Regions from separate parts of the Homo sapiens genome. Here region 1 is linked to region 2. A link means that fine-mapping ties the variant in region 2 to the expression of a gene that starts in the linked region. Tissue or cell type: nasal epithelium. Region 2 holds a variant in brackets; the other region holds the start of a gene. All regions are shown on one strand. Distances are from middle to middle.

Evidence for each region. PIP is the estimated chance that this variant, and not a neighbour inherited with it, causes the effect.
Region 1: C1orf198 starts here. The variant in region 2 is fine-mapped to the expression of C1orf198 in nasal epithelium (TOPMed, PIP above 0.99).

Annotation. Positions count from the first base shown.
Region 1 is chr1:230,866,901-230,869,583 of GRCh38, forward strand. It overlaps C1orf198 (chromosome 1 open reading frame 198), which reads right to left and starts at 1,621. Exons shown (of 4, transcript NM_032800.3): 1 at 1,280-1,621. The coding sequence starts at 1,612. RefSeq lists a silencer at 1,550-1,769 and an enhancer at 1,593-2,184.
Region 2 is chr1:230,838,246-230,840,928 of GRCh38, forward strand. C1orf198 (chromosome 1 open reading frame 198) reads right to left here. Exons shown (of 4, transcript NM_032800.3): 4 at 1-1,663. The coding sequence ends at 1,607. Among named protein-coding and RNA genes, the nearest start is that of C1orf198, 29 kb to the right of the region's middle. The variant A/G (reference allele first, on the strand shown) is at 1,463.

The DNA of each region.
Region 1 (2,683 bases), 29 kb after region 2:
AGTAGAGAATTTCCTTTTGATTCCATCAGAATAAAGAAACACTGGCAGCATCCTTCAGTCATTTCACTTTTCCCTCACATTAAAGTGGGTTTATGACCATGAACACTTCGTATTAATAAATGTCTCAGCACACCCAAGCCTGAAAATCTGATCTAAACCTCCTTAACTTGAATTCCATCCACAATCCACAACTTCCTCGGAAAAAATCTCTCCCAGCTTCTCCTTCCTCTAGCCCAAGAAACAGCCTTAACAGCGAGCGATTTCATTCCTACACTCTTTGCTCAGCTTGACTTTGCTCCTCACGGCAAAAGTTGAGTTTGAAACGCCAAAGAGTCACAGTGCAAATTCTAATGGCACCAAACAGGCTTCGGTTAAACACATTTCTAAGAAAAAGAAGACCAAGTTTCTGAACCCTACAGAAGATTCAGGCGTTTGTGACTAAGTGTGGGTCATCCCTGAGCTTTTTCTGGAACAGATTCAGCGTTTCTACCTTCACAAATGACTGTCCCTCTAGCAGTCTGGACAGTGTCTAGATCTGAGACCTAAACATGCCCTGTTATGTGGCCAAGACTTACTGGAGCTCATTTAAACTTATCGTCCCTTAGTTTTTTGGTGGAAAACAGGGCCACCATGCTCACCCTTAAAACATACGCTGGGCATTGTGCTCACTTGGAAAACATCTTAGGGTGATGGATGGGTTTCCCTCCTTATCTTGGAAGACACCTTTTCTTCCTTGTTACCTGGCTTGGCAATTTTACTTTCCCCATACATCTCATCACAAGTATTCATGTTAGTATATATCATTTGCTCAGTCCCTTCACGGGCAGGCACGGGGTGGCGTTATTACCCCCGTTTTACACAGTGGAAACTGAGGCTCTAAGAAGTTAATTGACCCACCGCCATACAGGTAGTAAGTAGCAGAGCTGGATTAAAACCCAGGCTTGTCTGGTTTAAAATTGCTTGTTGTTTCCACTTTGGTCAGCCTCGCTTACGACAGCTCCGGGAGAAGTCTCTGGAGTCCGTGCGAGCCGGCGGATCAGGTCTAGATGGAGGTTCTTTAACGACCCACCTCTCGGCGATCTCTTAACCAACTCCCCCAGCGGAGCCCCCACCCCCCGAACTTCGGCTCTGGGGCTCCCCTCCCACCCACTGCCATTCCTGCCTTTTCTTTTCCAGCCCCTACCAGCTGGGGCGGCCTCACGCCGGCAGGTGCCCACCGGGCCGGGGCGCCTCGGGGCGCCGGGAGGGGAAGAGGGTCCGCGGCCAGGCCCGCACCTACCTCGTCCCCGAAGCGCACCACCTTCTGGCCCGTGGGCCCGCGCAAGCCGGGGAAGCGCGTGAGCTCCTCCGAGTCCCCGGGGTCTCGGGGCGCCGGGGCGCGCGGCCCCACCAGGCACCGGTCGATGATCTCGTCCTGCTGCGCGGGCGGCAGCCGCGCCCACTCGGGCCCGTACTTCTCGCGGATCTTCTCCTTGTCCTGCATGATCTTCCTGGCCATGGGGCTCAGCGACGAGAAGTAAGTGAAGCGCTTTCGCTCCCGGTCGTCCAGAGGCCGGTTCCCGCTCATGACCGCCGAGCGCGAAGCCGCGATCGCCGCCGCCATGGACGCCATGCCCGGCCTGCCCGCCGCTCCCGGCCCGCGCCCCGCCCCTCGCTGTGCCCGCCCTCGCCCCGCCCCGCGCCACCCGGAGCCCCGCCCCCTCCGGGAACCCCGCCCTGCACCGCCGCGTACCCGGGTCTCCAAGCCAACCCAGCTCCCCAAGCCCCGGGACCCCGGCCCTCCGTGGCCCCCTCCCCGGGAGCTCCTCCCTCCGGGCCCCCCCCCGCCACCCCCTCGCGGACCCCACGAGTCCCCCTTTACGCCTCCATAGTGGATTACCGCGGTGCCCGCAGGTTTCGGGCTCCCCTTACCCGGCTCAGGTGGTAGCCGGCGTGTCCCTGAGTCCGCGCCCGGCGCTCTGAGAGGGTGGCCGTGGTTAATTCCCGGTAGTGACCGCCATAGCGCCACGTGGCCACTGCTTGACAAAGGAAACTTTTTTCAACCTCCAGTGAGCCTAAGAAAGCCCCAGCATTTCAGGCCAAGCCGCTGGCTGCCTGGCTTCTGTTTTTACTCCTTTCCTTCTGTCCCTTTCTGGGACGAGCCACACCTTCTCTGCTTTCTCTGGGCCCGTCCAGGACGCTGGGCCCGGGGCCTGGCGCGGTGAGCTGCAGATAGCCGGGGGCGCAGGGCAGCCCGGAGGCTGGAGGGCGACCTGGAAGGCTGGACCGGTTCGGGGCATCTGGTGCTCAAGGAAAGTCAGCTCCCGCCGCCCCTCGGGGCCAGGTGGGTGCATGAAGTACCCGGTGGCCCAGGTGCCTTTCCCCAACCCAAGGAGCTCAGAACTCTTGGCAGTTCGACGTTTGCAAACAAACCAAAGAGGAGCAGAAAGTTTTCAGACTCAGAGGCGACATCCCAACAGGTAGGGGGCCAGGGTTTGTAATTTTGAGGTGTGTCCCAGACAGACCACAAAATTAAAATTATAGCGAGCCCCCACTTCCCCCAAGCCCCTCTCTCCATCTGACTGATTTTAACAAGACTAACAGGACTCAGGTGAGAATTGTGTCCACTCGTAAAATAAAAAAACAAAAACAAAAACCAGCATTTCAGCTGTTATCCAGGGTCTTTGCCTGGATAGTTCTGAAC
Region 2 (2,683 bases):
TACTTAAATGGTACAGAAAGAACCAATATTTGAAAAGTTACAGTAAATCACTGAAGCAGAAAGATAAAACTATACCCCAAGGATCCAAATGAGGTTTAGGGACATAAAACAATTGGCAAGAACCAAATCAAAAGTTGGCTATGCCACAGCTTTGGCAGAAACTTTCCTGGAGATGATGAGGGGTTGAGGTGAGTTGCTATGTGCTTTATTTTGGAGCCAGATAAAATATTCTGGAAATCATTTCAGAAGGTCCTATGAAACAGGCATTTAAAAAAAAAAAAAAAAGAAGAAGACACACTTTGGTATTGAAACCGAGCGCTCACTGGCAGGTGTCGCAAAGATTAAGGCTTCAGGTGAGAACGCAGTGATGGCAACATGGAGATGGCGCCATACCGGGCTTGAGGCTCTGCTCAGACGCCTCCTGCAGGCTCACACGGCTCAGGGGCCACTGGGCAGGACAGCCTCTGAGTGCAGCAGCTTCCCTAGGGGAGGTGGACCACGTTGTACCACTGGGCAGCCTTGGTGTCTGCACCAGCTCCAAGAGATACTGCTGCTCTGACACCACGCAGGTCTCCATGGGCACTGCTGAGTTGACCGCAAACTCCACTCTTCCACTTCTGGTGGTGGTCAGGGCTGGGGAAGGTCCGTCATGACGCAACCTGGCTAGCCCTTGGGATAAAGAATGCCCACTGCTCCCATCAGTCCCATGCTGGAAGACTCTAACACAACTAAGCAGAAGAGCCCTGACCTCCAGCCACATCTGCCGTCTGCCCTGACTCCTGTAGGTGCCCAGTCCGGGGAACAACCAACAGGTCACATAAGCAACAAGAACTTCCAAGAGGAAATGGATATAAAACCAAGGAAAGTGGTAGCCCCATTGTTGATAATCTAGATACAAAATAATGAAAAGCTAGTACAAAACTCTTTAAACATGCAACTCTTTTTAAACAACAATCCATACTCTGAATATGTATCAGAGCAGGTTAAAGACTACACTGCTACATACCCGCAGTCTGTTCCCTGGAAATGGCGTGAGGGTGGAGGCTGGCACATGATGTGAGAGACATGGCTTCTGCCAGAGAAGCCCCGGACAGCTGCGAGCGCTGGCTGAGAACGTCGCTGGGGGCCAGTCTTTCCGGGGTCACAGCCAGCATGCTGATGTCATGGCTGATAACATCACCCTCAATCACCCACCAAAAGGAACCCATACGGTAAAAAGCGGAGGGGGGAGGGGGAATAATGGAGAAGGAGATGGAAATCACTTATATGATTTTTGTGACATGGTTGAAACACATCCTTTGAGGAGGGGGAAAGTTGGGTGGAGCTGGGAACAGAAGTTTTATTTACAAGATCTCCTGAATTATTAACAGACCTTAAAAATTCCAAATGGAAAACTTCTGTTATCAAATCACTGAAAATAGCATATATATCTGGTTCTACCAAAAAAGAAAAAAATCTGGCA[A/G]TATTGACCAGTTTCCAAATGATTAAGAAAAGAGTGTCAAGAAACCAGTAAAATACATAGGAAAAGGTGGCCCTTTTTATCCTCCTCCACCACACCACTTTGGAAAACATTTTAGGGTTCTTCATTGTATTTTTCTAATACATTTTACCAATTGTCCAGAAAATCAAATCCCGTCTTCAAGACGACATTACTTGAGCTGACCTGTAGAAGGGACAAAAACATGGAAGTAAGACGAGCCTCTTTTTTTCAGTTACGTATAATCTAAAAACAGCATCTCATTTAAAACGACCCAGATAAAAGAGCCTACTTCTGTCTCAGAGGTTCCCTGACCTCAATTTATCTCAGTGCTTGAAATCAGAAGATTAAATACAGTTCAATGCAATCTATACTCTGCCAGCATCCAACACTAACCCCTCTTCAACCCCAGGCATGTCTGTGAGCAGCTTACAGACCTTACAGAGAAAAGAACAATGTCTCTGTATTTTTCTATAAATCTTTTCTGTTTCTGAATGACAGCCATGTTTAAATTTATTCATCCTAAATAAGAGAACAAATGATAAAGATATTCCTTCAAATATAAAACAAACATCACACACAAACACAACAAAAAAGAACTTGTAAAGTTGAGAAAGTAAACATAGTGTGGAAAGAATGTGAAGCTTATTTCTTTCAGATCTTGTGAAAGGTTATGAAGTGATTTTCCCAAACTCTAAGCTCAGCCTCCGGGGCTCAAGCGATCCTCTTGCCTCGGCCTCCCACGTAGCTGGGACTACAGGCATGCACCAGGCGTGCACCACAAGGCCTGGTTTAATGTCATTCTTCTTTCAGGGGAAAGGGCTTAACTGACAGGTCCCCTCTTGTGAGCATGGGCTGTCTCAAGCTGCTGCTGTTTTCATAAAACTTCTGACTGGCTTCCACTCAGCAGCCTGTTTCTGATGTCCCTTTCCTCCAGCCTAACACCGGCAGGCATTTACCTGGTGCGCCAAGGTCTTCTTGAGCAAAGAAACCTTGACTCTCCACCCTCCAAGCAGCCGGCCAGCAGAAAATGCATACATGGCGGCAAGAGCAGGCAATGGGCTAATGGGCTTGCCCTTGACACCTGTCTCAGGCCCAGTTTGGCTACATGTGAGACTGGTGCAGAGTGAGGCAAAACATGCAGAATGGAAGGAGTGCAATCCAGTTTTCCTTGTTCTGGTTTCCTTCCAGTTTCTTAAATGCAGT